2 separate regions of the Homo sapiens genome follow, and region 2 is linked to region 1. Evidence: fine-mapped expression QTL. A gene starts in region 1. The other region holds a variant in brackets. All regions are shown on one strand. Distances are from middle to middle. Region 1 holds the start of ADSS2 (adenylosuccinate synthase 2). Region 2 overlaps SPMIP3 (sperm microtubule inner protein 3).

The links. PIP is the estimated chance that this variant, and not a neighbour inherited with it, causes the effect. A credible set is the group of variants that fine-mapping cannot tell apart.
Region 2: its variant is the best candidate, but not a certain one, in a credible set for the expression of ADSS2 in monocytes after R848 (Quach 2016, PIP 0.89).

What each region holds. Positions count from the first base shown.
Region 1 is chr1:244,447,085-244,455,084 of GRCh38, reverse strand. ADSS2 (adenylosuccinate synthase 2) reads left to right here and starts at 3,176. Exons shown (of 13, transcript NM_001126.5): 1 at 3,176-3,450. The coding sequence starts at 3,268. It also overlaps a transcript of CATSPERE not described here. RefSeq lists silencers at 2,787-3,276, 3,717-3,996.
Region 2 is chr1:244,360,238-244,375,996 of GRCh38, reverse strand. It overlaps SPMIP3 (sperm microtubule inner protein 3), which reads right to left. Exons shown (of 5, transcript NM_001012970.3): 2 at 11,241-11,309; 3 at 530-625. The coding sequence starts at 11,296. Among named protein-coding and RNA genes, the nearest start is that of SPMIP3, 15 kb to the right of the region's middle. RefSeq lists an enhancer at 13,478-14,303. The variant C/T (reference allele first, on the strand shown) is at 8,817.

The DNA of each region.
Region 1 (8,000 bases):
AGCCAGTTTCAAGCTTGCAAAGGCTTTTAACTGCTCAAGAAAATTCTTAGGGCTAACCTAAAAATCCCCAAATTCCTGTCTTCTAGATGGTGGAAACCAAGAGAAAGTATCTCCACATGGTCACAAAGTTAAGCTCTTCAGGACACAAAACAAGACAGAGAAATTTCATACAGTATTGGCTTCAGGGACCTGTAGCAAAGTTTGTAACTGACCAGCCTGCCAAGCCGGCTTGAAAAGCAGGCTTATAGGGGTCCTAAACCCACGTTCTATCCTGTGACACCCATCTATCCACTACAGAACACAGAAAGACAAATTCTTAGCACAAAACTACACCAGATTTGCTACAGCCTAAGACTAGTCTCACAAATCCTTTTTTCCATTTATCAAACCCTTGCAGAGGAGGTAAACAGTTTACTATTTACTGAGAAAGAGAGAGAGAGACCACAAACCGGTCCGGTAAGAATTTCATACCCTCTGTGCCGGCATACCAGATTTCCGGGTTCCCTTTCTCTGCAGTTTCCAGAAGAATGGAGTGGCTTTTGATGACCCTGCTTGCTTGTGCTATAGCTGTGGGGTTCAAGCCACTTTACAAGAGAAAATCACCCTTTACTGTTTTATGGAAACATAGACGAGATTCTTAATTTGCAAGATGCTGCCCAGCGGGCTGCATGGGGAACCGAATTAACATTTTCCATCCCAGCAAAACACACATAACAAAACACACATTAGCCACCTCGTTCAGCTCCCAATATCAGCCTGGCAAAGCTCAAAAACTTTTTCTCTTTGGTCCCTGTTGTCTTTGATCCACTCCAGGTGGGGAGGGATGACCTCCGAACGGTAATTCACAATGGGGTCTCTGGGCAAGACGAAGAGCAGATAGTCACCCCGAGACAGGCCTGTTGAGCCTTCTGTAGGGCTCATCAAATGTGACCAGACAAATAAGGAGGGTTTTGAGTTAGGTCTGCTGGACTTCCATCAGCAACCTCTTCTGAGATCCCTTCCACATATACAAACGCACACAAAGACGAGAGGACAGAAGGCGTTCCCAATCAGATCCCTAACCAAGAACTCCGGGAGTATCCCTTCCAAACTATCCTCCTATTCTCCTTCTGAGAAACCTCCTTGAAATCTTCCTGATTCAGGAGAAGTCTCCCAAACCTGGACTCTTCCTACTAGTTAGAAAGAGCCAAATGAGACCCCCCCAGGAGCCGAACAGACACCCTGCAATGGGGCTACAGACACCTCACCATAGGGCTACAGAACCAGTTGGGAGAAAGGAGGCGTTGGCAGCACCTAGGATACTCACCAATCCAGACACCCTGCCCTGCAATGGGGCTACAGACAGACACCCTGTGATAGGGTTACAGTTAAGGGACGTCTCCCCGGGGCTATTTCTCCATTGCAATTAAATCCATGCACACTGGGTTGGCAGCACCCCACCAGTAGAGAGAGTACCAGAGTCAGCCCCCAGTCCAAGAGAACTGGGTGGCCGCTTGGGCAGGCTTCTGGATCCATTGCTGGAGGGGGGCCACTGAACCACGAGTAGGTAGCCACAAAGGCAATGCCAGACAAGCCCCCAAATTTGTAACCGCCCAAGGGGTTCACCTTGTCCACTGCCTAGACAGAGCCAATTCATCAAGACAGGCAAATGGCAATAGAGAAAGAGTAATTCATGTAGAGCTGGCTGTGCAGGAAACCAGAGTTTTATTATTACTCAAATCAGTCTCCCATAAATGATTTTAAAAAATTGAATGGAAATGACTAGTAAGGTGTGCTTATTCAGTATCTACTATCTGCCCAACACTACCTCGGGCATTTGACTAGAAAGAAATAGATGGCATTCTTGTTTCCAAAATGTTTGTGATCTTGTAATAAGGCCAAGATAGACAACAATTATCACATAGTATTATAATTGTTTACTAATCAATAGACCAAATAATTTGAATCCTTGAGGGCTGAATTGTATCTTTATTTCTCCTATGTTATCAGTGCCCAGGACACTTAGTTAGTTAATAGCAGGTTCTCAATGTTCCTGACTTAACTCATTGACTAGAAATAAAATACTAAAGTGTACTCTAGGGACCATTAGTGAACATACAGTATGTACAGGCGATTTGGGAGACGGTACATATAATGTGATTCCATTCCCACTTTTTTTCGAAGCACCTTTTATCAGAATTAAACATCATAGTTAATTTGTGTTGGTGTCGAAAGGGCATTAGATGAACAGTAGGTATACACCAGAATCTAGTTACAAATGTAACTGAGAGACAGTGGAATCTACAGGAAGGACATGGGCTCTGGACTTAGATTATCGAAGTACCAATTCAAGCCTCACTAGGGCAAGTTACCCAGCTTTTAAATCCTGTAAAATAAGGATAATAGAGGATCACCTACCTTATATGGTTGTGGGGATTAAAAAATAAAGAAGTGCATGACGGTATCTGCATATATGTACTATATGCGACATAGGTAATCCACTCCTCCTCTCTGAGCCTTTGTTACTACTATGTAAAATGAGGATTAGGACTTTATTTGATCTATTGATTTCAGGTCTCATGTCCTTTATCTTATTGCCTTACTTTTGAATTTTGTCTTTTTTGATCCCTGTCCCCATCTCTGTTACTTCCGGACTTTTAATTTCCAATTCTACACTTACACGTTCCGATTTTATGCTGTTTGTACTGCGAAATTCCACAGTTTGTATTTTGTACACATTCATTCCTTAATAAAGACAAATCCAGACAAACCTGCAGATGGCAGACACAGTGGCCCCAGAATACACCGCCGCAGCCCAGAGCGTTGCATGCTGGGATTTGTAGTCCGACGCTCCACACGCGCTTCCGCGCCTCTCCAGTTTGAAAGCGAGAGGTAGAGCGGGTAGGCGGGGTGCTGAAGGAGAAGCGCTCTCGAAGCCCCGCCCCTGACCTTTTCCGCTCGCGAGGTTTGCACGGGAGTGGCGCGCCAGGCCGCGGAAGGGGCGTGGCCTCGGTCCGGGGTGGCGGCCGTTGCCGCCACCAGGGCCTCTTCCTGCGGGCGGTGCTGCCGAGGCCGGCCTGCGCGGGGCAGTCATGGTACCCCCTTGAGCGGGCTGTGGCGGAGAGCGGGGCGGGGACTGGCTGGAGGGTGGCGGCCCGGCGGGGCGGGGGCGGGGCCGGCCTCTGGCTCCTTCTTCCTCTGCATGTGGCTGGCGGCCGCAGAGCAGTTCAGTTCGCTCACTCCTCGCCGGCCGCCTCTCCTTCGGGCTCTCCTCGCGTCACTGGAGCCATGGCGTTCGCCGAGACCTACCCGGCGGCATCCTCCCTGCCCAACGGCGATTGCGGCCGCCCCAGGGCGCGGCCCGGAGGAAACCGGGTGACGGTGGTGCTCGGTGCGCAGTGGGGCGACGAAGGCAAAGGGAAGGTGGTGGACCTGCTGGCGCAGGACGCCGACATCGTGTGCCGCTGCCAGGTGAGGCGACGGGGCCTCTCATGGGAAGCCGGGCCCGGGAGCTCGGGCTGCCTGGCTCCTGGTGCCCGGGAACTCGGACCCAGAACCCGGATCCACTGGCCAAAATGAGGTGTCACCTTGAGGCTCTCTCCTCCTGTCCTGAGCTGCGGCTACGTGGAGAAATGGCGGGAGGTCGGGGACCCCTGACCTGGAGCGTCGGGTGAAACTTGGGGTGGCCCTGGAGGAAGAGGTGGGCTGGCGGGGAGCCTTTGAGAGATGCGCGATGCCTGGCAGTTGCAGTTTTGCGTCTGGCGAGTGGTGCTCAGCGCCGGGACTGAGGCCGGGGTGGAGGTGGGATGCGGTCCGAGTTTGAGGAGCTACCGCCCGAGGCCTGCTCCCAACTCTTCCGACTGCGGGCGGAGACCCGGCGCGACGGCAGAACCCCCCATCACCGCCCCCCCGCCCCGCCCAGGGCGGCGGAGTGGGAGTGGATTGTTTCGAAACGTCCTGAAATCAGACTCACCGATCCCCCATCTGCAGGACCGTGGCATGCAGTGCTTTGCTTCCTCTGGTCCACTTTGTTGACATCCAAACCCACCCACCTCTGGGCTTTGGACTGTTGTTTTAGGGCCCTGAGTTTCTTGTTTTTGTTTTTGTTTTTACAGTGTGCTCCATACATGAAAGTTAAGGAGAAATTACTTTTACTAGTTGGTCCCAGAGGAAGGAATCCCTTCTCTGTTCAAAAAAAGTGAGGGAAGTAAATACATGGATGTCAAATTGAGTATTTGGAAATAAATATTTGCATTGTTAAGGTGACATCGAAAGTGAACTTTCGGAAAACGAGGTGGTAATGTACTTCTAACGGGAGACACGTGGTTTTCAGTGTAACCTTTCTTCCTATTTGTCGTTTCCTTTGACGCAGCATACAGGGTAAGGCCTTTGTAAAGGCTCTCAGATAACTCTCTCCAGTTTCAAAATTCTAAGCAGATGAGCAATAACCACTTTCAAAACAAAGCATAATGTAATATTTGAAGTTAACTGCTATCTGTTTAGGTTGCAAGAATATTTGTTTTTGAACATGCATGGCATGATATGATGGTGCCATGCTGTATATGTTCTAGTAAGTTATAGGCCCCCTTGAATACCATTTTGAGCATGCAGAAACAATGAAATCACAGGTATGTTAAAAAGCTAAATGCAAATACTGCAAATATTCTCTGATTTACCTTGTTTCGTTTTGTTTTGTTTTCATTTAGAAATCCACCCTGCCCATTCTGAAATAGCTGTTGCACTAATTGCCTCTTAGGAAACTGTCACTACCACCTCTCCCTCCTTCCCTTCCAGCCTATTATTTCTCCACCCCTCTGGCAACACACTTTGTACCTTAGCAATCTTCAGGGTGTTGCCATTAAATTCCTGCCCCGCACTTTCTTAGGAAATACTCCAGAAATCCAGCCTTTACCTACCTTTTGTCTTACATTCAGATCTGGTCATGCTGTGGGGAAGACGTATCCGAATACCGAGCTTTCTTGCTGTCGACAGCGGGAGAGAGGCTGAGGCCTGTGTGTCTCCTTCACTGACATCTTGACATCTCGTTAATATGGAAATAGCTCAGGTTGAGCTACACTATGGGTTGTAAGAAGGTTTGGAGAACACAACCATTATGGTATTTATTCTAAAGGATCCTCAATTTTAATATTCTATGGAGAAATATTAGAAGTAGTTTGTAGCTTGGAGAAGGTGTTACTAATGTTACCGAGAAAGTAGTCTTGAAGTCATGGACCAACCTGATCTGATGCCCTTGGAAAGGCTAGAGAAGTGATTGAGAAGGAACTAAGTTTGGCTTTAAAATGTTAGCTGAAGATAGTGGAGAAACAAATGAGGGGCCTTGTTGGGCAGACTTCCCTCACCTGTGTATTTTTGACTTAACTACCTTCCTTATAGAATCCTTATGTTCTTTTAGTGCTTTTTAAAAGTGTATCATTAGGATTCTTTATTAGTCTTGTTAGCAAAAAATAGATGAGTAATGAATAGATTTAAGCATTATCTCTTTTGTGATTTACCTTGGTAACTTTGTATTATTTGGTTAGCCCTAGTAAGCTGGCATCTACTTAATGAAGTTCCCCTAGGTTATAAAATTGGAATGTTGAAGTTCTTAGTGAGTGTGTATAGAGAGCTGGAAAAAATCAACAGTAAGACATTGTGAGCTTGGATTGCCTTGTTTGATGTCTTAAGTTTTGTGTGTTAGTGAAAATATGTCCTTTGTTAGAGTTTAATATATTCTGCCATATTTATGTCATGAGTTCAAATTTTATTCAGTACTGTTTCTCCAGAAGTGATGTACACATAATGTATCCGTATTTCACCAGTAGACTCATAAGGACTTTCTCCCAACATAAAATATAGTTTTAAAAAGAAAAACTGGCATTGCATTTAATGATAAATTTTAATGTATAAAATGCCTTTTTGGAAACAATAGATGCAAACCTAGTGGCGTTTTCACTCTTAACAGCGCTTAAGGCCTGTGTTGTTCAGATTCAGGATTTATGGGGAGTTATTTATAACTTGGTAGGTTCCCCAGATCCATAAATATGTAGGACTTGCATCAAAGGACAACCACTACTGCTGCCTTAATTTTAAATCAATATTTATTTTAAGAAGAAGAGAGAAGAATTAAATAGAGGCCCAACCCTGGGTACAGGTCATTCATCTAGTAAACATTGAGTATCTGCAGGGGATCACTTAGCCTGGGAGTCAAAAATCTGAAAAAGGCAGGGATTGTGCCCACAAGGAGCTCACAATCTGGGGGACAACTGCTGTGTAAGCAAAAGTGTTGAGAAGGTCGGGATGGAGAAAGGTACTAGTCTAATACGTTTCTCAAGAGGTTAAAGTATGGGACCAAGAAAGTCCCTTTCTGGCATCACAAAAGGAAGCCTAATACTGTTTTTTCCCCAGTTCTCTCAAAGTAAAATACTGTGCTTTGTTTTCTGTATTTTGCTGAGTAGAAGCTACAGAAACTTCTTAACTATAGTAGTTTATACCAGGCTTTAAGCAAAGGCTTACTTATTTATTGTTCTTGAGGAAAGTAACTTCGGTGGTCTTGGTTATAATGACACACATGAAGTTGCCTGTGATCGGGAAAGGCTAGAGCAGTGTTCCGTGTGTATTCTCTCCAAGGCTTCAAAGTCAATAAAAAGAGAAAATACTAAAGTTAGTCATAAGGGAAAGCACACCCCATCACTTGATATATGTTTATAAAAGCTTGCTATAAAAATAAACATACTGAAAAAATATTACTATTTTCTAGCTAGATACAAGTATCTGCTGAAGATCTGAAACCACTATTAGTGTTAAAGAAGCATAAAAGACATATCAGCAGCAAACTAAAACTTTCTCCTTGAAATAGAAAAGGTGAAAGATAATTTAAAAGAAAATAACGTTAGTATTATTTAATGCCTTGACCTTGTACAGCTAAAATGATCTGCCAGACTACTTCCCATAATTTTAAGGATAGTAGGTAATTAGCATTTAAGGTAAGCCATTCTTCCAGGTTTATAACAATTGCTATTTCCATTTTTCTGATTCTTTTTATATCATTTATAGCATTTCCCTAGTATATAAGTATTTACCAATGTCTGTTATACTATACTTGGTTAAATCTTGTTCTGTTTGGTTACTGTGCTTTCTCTACTATAATGTAAATTTTCTCAAAAGGGAGACTTCTTCCTTTTCTTATTCTGTAGCACCTAATACTATATGAAGCAGAAGGGAAATACTCAACCAATGTATTCTGGGTGGCAAGATCACCCCTGGAAATTTATTTGAAATAAATAATAGTAACCCTTTCTTGTAATTGTTTTAACATCTCTCTGGACAATTTAATTGACTGGTGGCATACATTTAAGGCGGAATTCCTAGCATTCCTTGGATTAACATTTGTTATTTAGTTTTTCAGCTGGAATTTTTTACATTGTACCATTCAAAGTCTTTGTTTATATTAAAATCTTATCTCTTGTTTTTAGGAGAAAATAGGTAACTGATATTTATATCTTTTTCATGTATCTCCTCAACATATTTCGACTGAATACCATGTGGGGTTCTAGTAACTAGTTATTCCCCGCTGAGGACAGTAAATCTCAATGTTCGGTCAATGAGGATGTCCTATTGCAGTTAGTAAATATAGTATCCTGTCAGCTCTACTTTTGAGGCATGAGTTTTTAAACGTGTATGAGACCATCTCAGTGGTGTCTGATCAAAATTATTCTGTTTCTTTAACTTTGGTGGGAATGGATGGGTTTGTTGGATGTTTACAAGTATCTCTAAGAAAAACTGTTGCCTAGAGCAAATCTAGAATGAACCAATAAATTGATATTTACTTAATAGCTTTCTTTCTGTAACTGGATACGAATCCAGCTATCTTATCTCTCAGGGACTGTGTCAGATGTTGACACCAAAGATTAGTGTGGATGAGCTACATATTGATAAATTAAAATTGGTGACTATTGTAATACTTTTAGCAACAGAAACATCAACATTCAGTATTGCCTGCTGAAAGCAATGAAAAGAACAAT
Region 2 (15,759 bases), 83 kb after region 1:
ATAACACAAAATAAGGTCAAAGTGCCTATGGGCTGGGTGCAATGGCTCATGCCTGTAATCCCAGCACTTTGGGAGGCCAAAGTGGGCGGATGACTTGAGGCCAGAAGTTCGAGACCAGCCTGACCAACATGGTGAAACCCTATCTCTACTAAAAATACAAAAAAATTAGCTGGGTATGGTAACGTGTGCCTGTAGTCTCAGTTACTGGGGAGGCTGAGGCATGAGAATTGCTCGAACCTGGGAGGTGGAGGTTGTGGTGAGGCAAGATCTCGCCACTGCACTCCAGCCTGGGCAACAGAGCAATACCTTTTCTCAAAACAGCAAGATATAAAATAAGAATAATCTCACCACTCATTAAAAAAAAAAACATTAACAGTTTGGTATATTTTCTTGCAAACCTCTTCTATCCATTATTATTTTTGCTATCATCAGTATTATGAGGAGTAGTGTATCTTCCCCCCGCCGACCCCTTTTTATCATTGTAGCTTTCGTGACATTCTTGGACATTGGGATTGAGGAGGTGTCTCACCTGGGAGCTCTCTTTGCACTATGATCAAAATGGAGTCTTGCCAGCTGCCCAGGGTAATAGCCTTGAACGTCTCTTCCTTGGTGAGCGATGAATATACTAGAGCAGAAAGTGAGGAGGTGAGAAGAAAGCCATTCTTACAATTAGTTCATTCCAGAAGAATGCCAGCTGCGGCATAATACAAAACGTATTTGGTCTTTGTCCCCAGTTTCTGGCACTGAGCCCCTAAAACCCATGGAATTTCCTGATAAGGGTCTTTTTCATGCATAACCAGCCCTTTTCTACCATAGCTGAGTGTATGGGCCTCGCAGGCCTCCCTCCTCCCACCACAACCTCCCGCATCTGTAATAAAATGTTATTTATGTTCAGGATTCATAAGGAAATATGTAACATATCAGGTATTAGGTTCAAAACGTTAGGAAAAAAATTAATAAGTGGATATATAAAACCAGTGGGTGGGCAAGCCTATTTCTGGAATAAAATGAAATTAAATGAAAAGAAAAACAAAAAATAAGAAATAAATAAATAAAACCAATGGGGCAAATGTTGATAACAGTTGAAATGTGGGAATCGGGCTGGGCACGGTGGCTCACACCTGTAATCCCAGCACCTTGGGAGGCCAAGGTGGGTGGATCACTTGGGGTCAGGAGTTCGAGACCAACCTGGCCAACATGGTGAAACCCCATCTCTACTAAAAATACAAAAAAAAAGCTGGACGTGGTGGCACATGCCTGTAATCCCAGCTACTGGGAAGGCTGCGCCAGGAGAATTGCTTTAACTCGGGAGGCAGAAGTTGCAGTGAGCTGAGATTGTGCCACTGCACTCCAGCCTGGGCAACAGTGCAAGACCCTGTCTCAAAAAAAAAAAAAAAAAAAAAAAAAAAGAGAAATGTGGGAATCCGTAAACGGAGGGCTCTGTCTGAAAAAAGTACATAAAAATAAAAATAATAAAAGAAATGTGGGAATTGGTAAATGGGAGCTCATTATACTGGTTTTTTCTACTTTTGATGTTTACAAAATTTCATCTTTTTTTTAACTGTAACAAATAAGTCTGTAAAGACTAATCGTGAAGCAGCACTGTGATGTCAAAGCACAAGGCGCTTGCAAGCCTGGGAGGGGGACTCGAGCCCTGTCTAGAGGCTGGATTTTGAGGAGTTTTGGGAGCATCATTGAGCTAACATGTGGGGACTGGGAGGGAGCACTTCTGTGGGGTGAACGTAAGAAGAGGTGGGACAAGGGTGGGTGGTACAAGTGGAATACAACGGGGCTGAGGGAGGCCAGGCTGGAGGGCAATGGTGCTCAGGTTTTATGCTTTAAAATACATCTCATTTTATTTTATTGTATTTATTTATTTATTTTGAGACGGAGTCTCACTCTGTCGCCCAGGCTGGAGTGCAGTGGCCCAATCTCAGCTCACTGCAACCTCCGCCTCCTGAGTTCAAGTGATTCTCCTGCCTCAGCCTCCCGAGTAGCTGGAATTACAGGTGCCTGCCACCACACCGGGCTAATTTTTGTATTTTTAGAAGAGATGGGTTTCACCATGGTGGCTAGGATGGTCTCAAACTCCTGGCCTCAAGTGATCCGCCCACCTTGGCCTCCCAAAGTGCTGGGATTACAGGCATGAGCCACTGCACCCGGCCAGAAATATGTCTCATTTTATAGTACATTGCTTTTCCTTTTATATTATAGTTATAAGACTGTAATGAGATAGGTTGGTGTAAAAGTAATTGCGGTTTTTGCTATGACTTTACTTTCAATGGCAAAAACTGCAATTACTTTTGCACCAACCTAATATTTTTAAATTATATGTGGTTGGTTTATATTATTTACAGATTTTATTTCAGAAGAATAGCAGAGATATTACAAAATATCTATTATTAAAAAGGGGGTATTGTGTCTGAAAGTTTGAGAACTACTGATGGAGGTGATAGGAATCTTTGTGAGGTTTGCTGTTGTTTGTTTTGTTTGCTTTTAGAGATGGAGTCTCACTGTTGCCCAGGCTATAGTGCAGTGTGATCATAGCTCACTGTAGCCTCTAACTCCTGGGATCCAGAGATCCTCCTGTTTCAGCTTCCTAAGTAGCTGGGAGGGACTACAGGCATGTACCATATGCCTGGCATGCATATATATATATATATAATTTTTTTTTGTAGTTTCACTATGTTGCCCAGGCTACTTTGTGAGATGTTTAACAAGGTTCATGACATGGTAGAGAAAGATCTTTTTTGATGGCAATGTGGAAAACCATTTTTTTTAAAAGACAGGGTCTCATTATGTTGCCCAGCCTGGTCTGGAACTCCTGGGCTCAAGTGATTCTCCCGCCTTGACCTCCCGAAGTGCTGGGATTGCAGGTGCGAGCCGCTGCACCCAGCCAGAAAACAAATTTGAAGACCATGTGACTAAAAGCAGAAAGACTGCTTAGGAAGTGATTGTAGTGCTTTATGTGGGACATGACGAAGCTCTGATATGATGGAAATGTGGATGGAGAGGATAGGGCTGATTGAGGATATTTTAGGAGATAGGATGGAGGGTAAAAGACAGGGAAGTGTCCAAGACAAAGCTGCATCTTCAGGCATTGGAAAGAATCCTGCCTTTCCCCAAGAGAGGGAACACAATAAATGGCCATCATTGGGAAGGTGACTTTATTGAGTTTGTGATGCCTGGACATGTGGGGTCTTTCGGGATGTCCCACAGATTCTGAGCAGTCAGTAGATGCCATAAAAATTCAAAGTCAGGAGGCTGGGCTCGCGCCTGTAATCCCAGCACTTTGGGAGGCCAAGGCGGGCGGATCGCAAGGTCAGGAGTTCGAGACCATCCTGGCTAACGCGGTGAAACCCAGTCTCTACTAAAAATACAAAAAATTAGCCAGGTGTGGTGGCGGGCACCTGTAGTCCCAGCTATTTGGGAGGCTGGGGCAGGAGAATGGTGTGAACCTGGAAGGTGGGGCTTGCAGTGAGCTGAGATCGTGCCACTGCACTCCAGCCTGGGGGACAGAGTGAGACTCCATCTCAAAAAAAAAAAAAAAAATTCAGAGTCAGTAGAAAGTAGCACATCATTTTGCATAACGTATCTCACTAAATATGTGTTAGATAATGGATGAAAACTGAAACTATGCCTTCAGTTCGACTCAACCAACATTTATTGAATGCACACAAAACACCCTGCACTATGCTAGGCTCTGCAGATACAAAGCTGACTAAGAAGCAGCGCTTGTCCTCAAAAAGCTCTTCACATGCTGAAATAGTGATCTGAATAAAGGGTCCATAGGACACAGAAGAGGGAGGAGTATCTAGATCTAGGACTCGGATAAGCAAAGGGGTTGGGGAAGAGATTCCAAGCAAAGGGAATTATAGGGGCCAAGACATGGACAGAATTAGGTTCTGAGTGGAGTGTATGAGGGCTAGAGTGGGCCTGACTGTCTAGCATGAAAGGCAAGCACTGAGCAGGGCGAGTTCTGTCTCTGTCTGTGCAAAGACGACCTCTGGGAGCTCTGATTTGCAGAAAAACCACAGGCTGTCTGGGCCTGCCCAGTGGCTGGGATAATATGACTGAGCCCTGGATGGTAAATAACAATGGGGTATTAAGTCATAAGAAGAGAGAGGAACTGGCACAATAAAGGGAACAAATGACATTTCTGAATGCACAGGGGTGGGACACGTAGCTTTCTTAGGCACCTATCCATTTTCTGAAGCACCACCTTGGAATATTACCCCAGGGCCACATTACAGTTTAAGAACCCACCTAAAGGATGCTGGTTTCTACAGTTGCTGGGCTGTGGGCGGTGGGCTGGGTTTTGACCATGGCGTGCATACAAACAAACACCTGCTGAATACAGGTGAGTAAACTCAGCGCTGCTCCTTAGAAGCAGTCAGTAAAAGCTGATTTGAGGATAAAGAATCCCAGCACCAGCACCAAGTAATCCTCCCTGCCACCGCCCCTTGGCAGTGTCTCTTGGCAGGTTTTGGGAGGAGTGAAAAGAAAATGGGAAGGTGTGTGTAAGGAGATGGGTGTGGAGAGAGGGATGGCTGGGTGGAGAAGAGAGTTTTGACCTCCTAAGGGGAAATGTCTAGCCAGGCCAGAGGCTGTGCATTACCCGGCCTCAGTGAATGATTGTGAAAGCACGTGCGGACTCTTCAGACTTGGCTGTGGAGGCCAGCCCAGCTCAGGGCTCTGCTCAGAGTGATTCTGTTGAACCCGGGTTTTAACCAGCTGTAGAAAGCCCTTTCCTTCTCACTGGGCAGGTGCAGGCACCGTGCGTGATTTTGAGTCCCTGATGGCTTGGCTTTTTGAGGTGATGTATTCAGTCCACATGAGAGCAAACCTGTTCCCTGGGAGGGTGGCTGTAAATGGAGTGGGATCTGGGCTTAGCCACAGTCAAAATTCAATATCTATAGGAGAGGCCAGAGGTGTCGGTCCCTCCAGAGCCTGGCCCCACAGCCCCAGGTAGCCTGTGTTCCTGTGACCACGCTCTTCTCTGTTACGGCCCTGCTGGGGCTCATCCTCTACAGAGCATTTTTACAGAAATGATCTCACTTAATCCTCACAGTCACCTTGCAAGGTAAACATGATTAACTCTCTGCTTTATAAGAATAGCCCAAGTCTCAGAAGGGTTAAGTGGACTTTTTAAGTAGTAAAGTCCACTTAAACAAGTAAATGCCAGCGCCGTGTATCAAACCCAGTTCTCCAAACTCCATGTCGCTATTCTGCCACCCGAGGGTATGTGTGATGATTTGTTTTAATAAGAATTCAGTGCTATTTTCATACAAACTCTGTGATTCTCTCATTTTGGGGCAGACAGCAAATAGACATTGTACACTAAAAAATAGGAAAAGCCATAAAGACACAGCAGTGTTAGCTGGAAGATGCTTTTAACTCAACGAAAAGCACTCACTGCAAGCTCTGCTGTGCCTCCAGTGGGCTAGGCACTAGGGATACAGTGATGACAATGTTGTCTTTCCACTCAAGAGTTCATAATCTGGTCAGGAAAGCCACGTTTAGGCAACTATCTAATCACAGACGATGTGGTGAGTGCTACGCCTGATAAGAAACTGAGGCTCAGGGGAAGTAAATAACTTAGCTAAGGACATGAGCTAGTAAGTCCAGAAGACAGAACTAAAGGAAGGACTAGGAAGCCTCCAGACCTGTGCCCTCATCTCCCAGGCTCTGCCGGCTCCACAAGAATCTCCTCAAGGGAGTGGGGAGCCTCAGTTTCCTCATCAGTAAAATGGGAATGATACTGTCTTCTCCTTTAATGATTGCATGAGAGTAAACGAGACATTTGTACTTGGTGGCTAACATCTCCCAAGGTGTTGGTATTGATACAGGAGATGGAAATTATTTAGGCAGATGGAAAGGGCAACAGAGTCCTCGGCGGAATTTCCCTTTTAACAAAAAGCAGCCCCAAAGTCATTTATTTTCTAACAAAGAGTAGCCTGTAAAATCATGCTGCAGACATGAATAAGCAAGCTGGAAACTTGTGTGGGTGAATGCTGGCAGCTGTGCCCATAGAAAAGGGCTACCTGAGGGCCAGCATGTTCAACATGGAGGCGCCATCTTCCCCTTTCTCTGTCACCACGTGTATAGTACAAACAAAAACAGGCAACTGAACGTGACCCGGCTAGGCAGAGAACCCATCTACATAATAAAAGATTAGGGTGGGGCGGCCAGCTTCTTCACGTGCCATGCAAACAGCACACCTAGTCCTAACCAGTTCTTCCCACATTATGCAAACACCACACCTAGTCCTAACCAGTTCTTCTCACGTTATGCAAATGGCACACCTGGTCCAACCAATCTTTCGTGCCCTATGTAAATCAGACACCACCTCCTCAAGCTCGGTTATAAAACCTGCACTTCACCAGGGACCAGAAGACCCACTGCGACTCCCTCTCTCTGTAAGAGAGAGATTTTCTCTTTCTTTAGCCTATTAAACCTCCGCTCTTAACCTCACTCCTTGTGTGTTCACGTCCTTGATTTCTTTGGCGTGTGGCAATGAACCACGGGTTGTACCCCAGAGAAATGACGCTGCTCCAATATCATCCCACGCAGGATGGGCTGACCACACAGTTGCCTCTGGATCTTCAGAGACTGTTTCGATCAAAGTTTTAAAAGTCTATTTAAATCACACACAAATTCTGTATCTTCGATCTTCTACAACACACTGAATTTAATCCACTTAAAGTGATCTTTTCAGGAGTATCCTGGGTTCCACAAACCAATGCCACACCCAGCCCTTCTCTGAGTGACAGGCCTCCAGCCTGTAGCCAGGGGATGGCACCAGTAAACAGTTGCATATAATATGATTTTTTTTTTTGAGACGGAGTCTGGCTCTGTCGCCAGGCTGGAGTGCAGTGGTGCAATCTTGGCTCACTGCCACCTCTGCCTTCCCAGGTTCAAGCAATTCTCCTGCCTCAGCCTCCCGAGAGGCTGGGACTACAGGTGTGTGCCATCACGCCCTGCTAATTTTTTGTATTTTTAGTAGAGACGGGGTTTTACCATGTTGGCCAGGATGGTCTCAATCTTTTGACCTCATGATCCGCCTGCCTCGCCTGCCATAGTGCTGGGATCACTGGCGTCAGCCACCGCACCCGGCCAATATGATGATGAATACAAGAATTTTATGTGGCCACTACTAAGTGTGAACCATTTAATATTTACTTTTATTTAGTGTCCCAAAACCTCAGTTTTCTGTAGCGTAGCTCTGAGGCTTGGCCATTTAAGGATGAATTGGATACATGCTTGTGCAGAACCACACAAGGGCAGGCTCAGGTGCCATCAGTCACCAGGGGTACACACCACACATAAACGATTGGATAACTTTGCTCACTCATTCATTTCAATATTTTCAACAACCGTGCCTACAGGGCCTACCAGGAATGGTAATCTGCAAGGCAGAGGTCATGATAGTGAGTTGCAGAGAAAGGGAAGTAAGCCCTGCCTGGAGGGCTAACCTGGAGATGTGGCAAAATGCAGTGACCACAAGCACAGACGTGAGTTTAAGTCCCATGTCCGCCAGTCAGTAGCTGTGGGATCTGGGGCAGTCATTTAACCACACCGTGCCTTGGTTTCCTCATATGAAACTCACAGTAGTGAAGGTTAAAGGAGTTCAGATGCACCTAGAACAGTGCTTGGCACAGAGTAAGAGCTTCAGAAGTGTTTACCATTATTATTCCAGGGGGTGAGACAGGCAGGATATAAAGAAACAGATAAAGTAGGCCAGGTGCAGTGGCTCAAGCCTGTAATCCCAGCACTTTGGGAGGCCAAGTTGAGTGGATCATTTGAGGTCAGGAGTTCGAGACCAGCCTGGCCAACATGGTGAAACCTTGTCTCTACTAAAAATAAAAAATTAGCCAGGTGTGGTGGTGGGCGCCTGTAGTCCCAGCACTCGAGAGGCTGAGGCATGAAAATCACTTGAACTCAGGAGGCAGAAGTTGCAGTGAACCAAGATCATACCACTGCACTCCAGCCTGGGTGACAGCGCAAGACTTTGTCTCAAAAAAACAAAAACAAAACAAAACAAAACAAAAAACCAAAAACCTTTCCTTCCTGAAACCCGGATGAGGAGGAAGCAGGGGAGAGAGGAATGGAGTTGGCTCCAGTATTTCCTGATTGTCTCCCCACAGCGTTTGCTCTTTCTGTGTGTGTTTGAGATCTGTTTTGTTCACTGAGAGGCCTATTTAACTGTGGTCTTATCTGGGGAAAATGGAAACAAACCTCCATTGGCCACTCCTGCCTAGTGCTCTGTGGTGTCTGGACCTGGCCGGGAGTCCGGGGGTTTGGGTGGAACTGAGCACAGCAGGCCCTGGGGCCCCTGGAGGCCTAAGGCTGGGCTGTCTTCTGCTCTCTGGGGCTTGTCCTCCGAGCCGCACGTGGGTTGGGGGGCACACTGACGGCTCCGGCTCTTCCTGCACCTGAACTAGTCTTGTTGCCCCCACCCTCCGCCCATAGTGCGCACCGTGAGGCAGCTCTGTGTGCCTCTCCTGACCTGTGGGTCCAATCAGCAAGTCCGTGCATTCCCCCTCCAGGCTGGATCTCCCATGGGACGGCTTCTCCAGCCCACGGCCACCCCTTGGTCCAGCTCACCATTGCCTCCCCCTGCTCTCTGCAATAACCCCCACTCTTGTCCTCAGACAATCTGTTCTCAGAGTGAGCTTCATAAAAGTAAATCGGATCAGGGCCCTCCATTGCATAAAACCCTTCAACCCATTGCATGTATAATAGCATAAAACCCAGACTCACTATTGTAGGCCACAAAGCCCTCCGGGAACTTCTCCTGCCTCTACCGTCCCAAC[C/T]TTCTCCCAGCTCCAGCCCCTGTGTCATCATGTCATGGCTTCTTTCATGAATCAGGGATTTTGGACCTGCACTTCCTCCTCCCTAGACCGCACCCTTCTCCCACCCCCTGCCCCTATCACCCAGCATCATGCTCGGCTGACAACTGCTGAGAGAGCTGTTCCCTGAACACCCTGGCTAGAGAAGGTATTCTCCTTCTGCCTACCTCTCCACCTGATTATTCTCCCTCACACCCTTTTTCATTTCCTTTATCACAACTTCCAATTATTCTATCTGTTTAGTTTTTCTTTCTTTCTTTTTTTTGAGACAGAGTCTCATTCTGTTGCCCACACTGGAGTGCAGTAGTGCGATCTCGGCTCATCGCAACCTCTGCCTCCTGGGTTCAAGCGATTCTCCTGCCTCAGCTTCCCGAGTAGCTGGGATTCCAGGTGTGTGCCACCACGCCTGGCTAATTTTTGTATTTTTAGTAGAGACAGGGTTTCACCATGTTGGCCAGGCTGGTCTCGAACTCCTGACCTCAAGTGATCCACCCGCCTTGGCCTCCCAAAGTGCTGGGATTACAGGCACGAGCCACTGCATCAGGTCTTAAAAGAAAATTCTTAAGATGTAGCCAGGAAGGACACATCCATCCATTCACTCCTTCTGTAGTTTCTGGAAGAAGGACTTCTCTTTTGTTGACCAAACATGGCTAAAATAACTCAATATTAAAATAAACATGAGGCTGGGTGTTGTGGCTCACACCCATAATCCCACACTTTGTGATACCAAGTGGGAGGACTGCTTGAGGCCAGGAGTTCCAGACAGTCTGGGCAACATAGTGAGACCTGGTCTCTACAAAAAATTTAAAAATTAGCCAGGCAGCTTGTAGCCCTAGCTACTCAGGAGACTAAGGCAGCAGGAAGATCAGTTGAGCCCAGGAGTTTGAAGTTGGACTGAGCTATGATCCAGCCACTTCACTCCAGCCTGGGCAACAGAGCCAGACTTTGTCTCTAATAAATAAATAAAAATAAAATAAACTAAACACGAGGCTTGCTCAAAGCCACAAAGCCAACGGGGCTACAGGAGGCTGACCCCCATGTCATGGTGTGAGGTTGCTGTCACAAATTTATAGCTACTACACTGCTGCAGACCCGTCGAGGTGGTGAAGGGGGAGTGGGGTTAGGATTTACGGACTGTCATCTGATACCAAATTTAGCACAACAAGACAGATCTAGGGCTTGTTATTCTTGTGCCATAGAGGACCTTGAAGAAAGAGCGAAACAGCTCCTTAGTTTCCATCTGTGCCGTCAGCTCTCATCAGAGGAAGCACAGGAGCAGTTTGTTTTCCCACAAGCAGAGTAAAATGGTCCAATCCAAAATGTGGGCTTGGATTGCTCAGACTTCTCACTAAAGCTCTTCCCAAGCAAAAACCAATATCCTTCTGGTCTTTTGGGAATTTGGAGTTGCCTGTTTGCTTGGATTCTGCAGTGAGTGTGAGGCTTCTTTTTCTTACAACTTTCCCTAAACCCAATGTGGAGGCTAGAGCAACTCTATGTTGGATGCTAATTCACCATGTTGGCTTCTGATTAACCCCTTGTATTAGCCCATTTTCATACTGCTATGAAGAAATACCCGAGACTGGGTATTTTATAAAGAAAAAGAGGTTTAATGGACTCACAGTTCCACACGGCTGGGGAGGCCTCACAATCATGGCAGAAGGCAAAGGAGGAGGAAAGGCATGTCTTCCATGGCGGCAGGCAAGAGAGTTTGTTCAGGGGAACTCCCACTTATAAAACCATCAGATCTCGTGAGACTTATTCACTGTCAGGAGAACAGCATGGGAAAACCCCACCCCATGGTTCAGTTACCTCCCACCAGGTCCCTCCCACGACACGTAGGAATTATGGGAGCTACAATTCAAGATGAGATTTGAGTGGAGACACAACCAAATCATATCACCCCAGGCCTCTAAGATTTCCAGTTTCTCTATAGTTCCTGGTGTCAGAGCAGGTACTTACTGTAAGTTCTGCCCTTCGGCCAAACAACATTGGTGTTATCGTACTTCAATTGTCCCATATATCCCTTCTGTATCACTCTTCCCCTATGGTATCTAAATCCTGGGTCTCAGGGGTAATGGCGCAGACATCCACCATCTCATCTCACTGCTACCCGAGACACATATATGGCTTCTGTTCGTAAGTCCCTGTTAAATATTTCTTTGTAAGAAACTGGATTTGTCAGCCTCTTTCTTCGGCGTCTCAGCTTCCTCTGACTTTTGCCGGTAGGTTTGCACAGACCTGCTCATCAGGAAATATCCAAAGAGCTTCCCTAGAACTCCCTGGCAGTAGTCTCTGGACCACTGAGCAGCAGGATGTGCAATTCTAACTCCCCAGGCACCTGGCTGCCTGGCTTCAGTCCCGGAGGCTGTGCATCTGGAAGAACTATACCTTGGCGGGATCACTGGGCGACGCTCAATAAATTCTCGTAGTCGGATGGCAGTCATGATGGATGGGAATCTGAAAAAAAATTATGGCATAAAGGATTATATTGCCAGTTTATACATAATTCCATGGGTGAGATATCTAGTACCACAAAGTCCATCTTGAAAGAAATCAGTAAAAATATTTGACATGGTAGAAGGACTATGCATATAGGCTATTTAGGGAAGGAAATACAAGATTAGAAAGGAGCAAAAAGAAATGGCAAGCATAAGGCAAATACACACAGATGTGCTTTTCTTTAAAAACCAAAAGTAAAAAAAAATTAAATAAGTATAAATCAATAAGAAAATAAAAAGCAGGCCGGGTGTGGTGGCTCACGCCTGTAATCCCAGCACTTTGGGAGGCTGAGGTGGGAGGATCACGAGGTCAGGAGATCGAGACCATCCTGGCTAACACGGTGAAACCCCGTCTTTACTAAAAATACAAAAAAAGTAGCCGGGCCTGGTGGCGGGCGCCTGTAGTACCAGCTGTTTGGGAGGCTGAGCCAGGAGAATGGTGTGAACCCGGGAGGCGGAGCTTGCAGTGAGCCAGGATCGTGCCACTGCGCTCCAGCCAGGGCCATAGAGTGAGACTCCGTCAAAAAAAAAAAGAAAAAGCAAAAGCAAAGGTACTGTGCTAATGTTAGCTGGGCATAGTCTCCTGTCTCACTTCATTGTTTTTTTGGTTTTGTTCTGATCAGTTGTGACCCAAGATCCTGTCTCATTTCTTAGTGGGCCTTCCTACCTCACAAGCTTGCAAGCTAAGCACGACATTTCCCAGAGTGCCTCACAACAAGAATCCCGGCTAGGAGTGAGCGCCCTTGCATCGGCTGTACTTGCTTGAGATTTGGAAGGTGGACATTAGGCAGAGGCTGCTGCCTTGATCTTCTCTACTGGCAAGCAAGGTTGTGGAGCATATGGCACTTTTCCAGCGTCTCATCTCCAGCTTTGGGGCATTCAAGAAGCAATTGTTGCGAAGGCAGTGGCTGAAGTCTGTGTCCCAGGGTTCAAATTCCAGCTTCCTAGGTGGCAGAGACAGTGGCGTTGGGAGTAGGTTCTTGAACTCAATACTCCTGGAAGCAGCTTCCTGATCTGGACTGACATAGCTTTACCAGTGATGGGTCAGTTTTGTGGAGATGTTCTAGATGCCTCCTGGGGGCCCCACCCAGAGCCTGTTCTTCCAGCCCTTCTGAGGATTTTTTGTAAGCCATTCATTCTCTATGTTAGCCCCCTTTCTGTTCCCCACTGACCCTAGACTAAACATATAGGTTGTTTCTAGTCTAAAATTTCATATCACATCTGATTGTTTGTTTGTTTTTCACAGGGCCTCACTCTGTCGCCTAGGTTGGAGTGCAGTGGCACAATCGTGGCTCACTGCCACCTCCACCTCCCGGGTTCAAACAGTTCTCCTGCCTCAGCCTCCTGAGTAGCTGGGATTATAGGCACCTGCCACCATGCCCAGCTAATTTTTGTGTTTTTAGTAGAGATGGGGTTTCACACCATGTTGGCCAGGCTGGTCTTGTACTCCTGACCTCAGGTGATCCACCCACCTCGGCCTCTCAAAGTGCTGGGATTACAGGCATGAGCCACCGTACCTGGCCCACATCTGATTATTTACTGGAGAATATGGCTTGCCACAAGCAAACTACTACATTTAAATAATCACATAAAGTGGTGAGACCCCAACTCTATGAAAAATACAACAACAAAAAAAAAAGCCTGGTGTGGAGGTGCATGCCTGTGGTCCCAGCTACTCAGGAGGCTGAGGCGGGAGGATCGCTTGAGCCCAGGAAGCGGAGGTTGCAGTGAGCCAAGATCACACCACTGCACTCCAGCCTGGGTGACAGTGAGACCCTGTCTCAAAAAAAAAAAAAAAAAAAAGTTCACAGGGAAAAGAGTAAACAATGAGAAGGAAAACTGAGTGGCTGGGGGACAAAGGCATACTTTTTACCATTTACCTTAGGAATTTTGCACTCTGCATATCTATTATGTATGCATAGACAGCTGGGCCTATGGTTTGCACAAACATGGCTAGTGGTGTAGCAGGAGAACATCGGACTGAGACCCATGTGACCTGCGGCAGGTCATTTTCCCACTCTCCACATTGATTACAATAGCTCTCTGGAGGGTTGAATGAGGCAAAGATGTGTGCGAGAGTGTTCTGTGTCCTTGAAAACATCTTTGAGAAAGGAGAAATGTGAGTTCCTATTGACAATCATGGATTATGTACCAGGTAACATGTATTAACTCCTATTAGCCTCCCAGCAACCCTACAGAGTTTTACTGCTATTTACTCCCAAGAAAATTGAGGTACTAAGAAGTTAAGTAACTTGTATGAGGTTACCAAGGAACCAGGGCTGGAACCCTCTGGCTGCAGAAATATTTATTTTAACTCTTAGCTCTATCAAAACAATCACAAGGCACCCAGACCATCAGCCAAAACAAAACTAGGACTATTCAGTAACCAGGAGACAGAAAGGACTGGAAAAAAAGAGTGTGTGATGTCTCCTCCTCTTCCCTTTCATAGACAACGGTTAACTCATTGCCTGCCGGCTGGCCAGCTGCTTTATTTCACCTGAGTGTGTTTTTCAAAGCAACTTGAAGATTTTAAACAGCATTACACTATAATGGAATAGTTGGCTATCCAACAGAGCCTAATCATTATATAATGTACTTTTACTGCTGTGATTATTTAAAAAAGAGAGAGAGAGAGAAAGAGAAAGAAGGAAGAAACAATGAGAGAGAAAATCTGAGTAAACACAGCTGAGCTCTTGGTTAATCTGCTAACCCGAACTCCGAAAGCTTCGTGACTGGAGTTTACTTCAGTGGAAGTGACAGGCTGGACAGAAGAATGCCAGGTATTCAGGGCTTTTGAGCTCCTAACAAAGACAGCCCCCACTATCCCTTTGAAGACAGAGTGAGTGCTCAGTGCCTAGAAATTCTGAATCAGTCTTGTAAGGGAATAAATCGGTCATGGGTTGCCATGCTTTTTTAACAAAAATTTTTATTTTTAATTATTATAGATATATAAGAGATGTATGTATTTATGGGGTACATGTGCCATTTTTATATAAGCATACAATGAGTAATGATCCAATCAGGGTAATGCGGGTGTCCATCACCTCAAGAATTTATCATTTCTTTGTGTTAGGAACATTCTAATTCCACTTTTTAAGTTATTTTGAAATGTAGAACAGGCCGGGCGCGGTGGCTCACGCCTGTAATCCCAGCACTTTGAGAGGCCGAGGTGGGCAGATGACTTGAGGTCTGGAGTTTGAGACCAGCCTGGCCAACATGATGAAACCCCGTCTTTACTAAAAATACAACAATTAACTAGGCATGGTGGCGCATGCCTGTAATCCCAGCTGCTTGGGAGGCTGAGGCAGGAGAATCCTTGAACCCAGGAGGCAGAGGTTGCAGTGAGCCGAGATCGAGCCACAGCACTCCAGCCTGGGCAACAGAGGAAGACTCCATCTCAAAAAAAAAAAAGAAAGAAAGAAAAAAAAGAAATGTACGATAAATTATAGACAATAGTCACCCATTGTGCTACCAAACACTGATCTTTTTTCTTCTAACTGTATTTTTGTTCCATTAACCATCCACCGTTTATTCCCTCTTCCCCACTCCCCTTCCCAGCCTCTGCTAACCATCATTCTACTCTCCGTCTCCGCAAGTTCAATTCCTTTTCTTCGACAAGTTCAATTTTTTTTCAAGCTCCCACATATTAGTGAGAACAAGCAATATTTGTCTTTCTGTGCCTGGCTTATTTTACTTGATATAATGTCCTCCAGTTCCCTTCATGTTGTTGTAAATGACAGGATTTAATGCTTTTTTTTTTTTTGAGACGGAGTCTCACTCTGTCACCCAGGCTGGAGTGCAATGGCGCAATCTCAGCTCACTGCAATCTCCGCCTCCCAGGGTGAAGCAATTCTCCTGCCTTAGCCTCCTGAGTAGCTGGGACTACAGGCACCTGCCATCATGCCCAGCTAATTTTTGTATTTTTGTAGAGATGGGGTTTCACCATGTTGACCAGGCTGGTCTTGGAACTCCTGACCTCAGGTGATCCTCCCGCCTCAGCCTTCCAAAGTGCTGGGATTACTGGCATGAGTCACTCTGCCCGACCGATTTCATGCTTTTTTATGGCTGAATAATATTCCATGCATGCATGTGTGTGTGTGTGTGTGTGTGTGTGTGTGTGTGTGTGTGTGTGTGTGTATATCACGTTTTCTTTATCCATTCATCCATTGATAGACACTTGGGTTGATTCCATAGCTTGGCTATTGTGAATAGTGCTGCAATAAACACAGGACTGCAGATATCTCTTTGATATAACAATTTCCTTTCTCTTCGATATATACCCAGCAGTGAGACTGCTGGATCATATGGTAGTTCTATTTTTAGTTTTTTGAGGAACCTTCATACTGTTCTCCATAGTGGCTGTACTAATTTACATTCCTACCAACAGCGTATGAAGGTTCCCCTTTCTC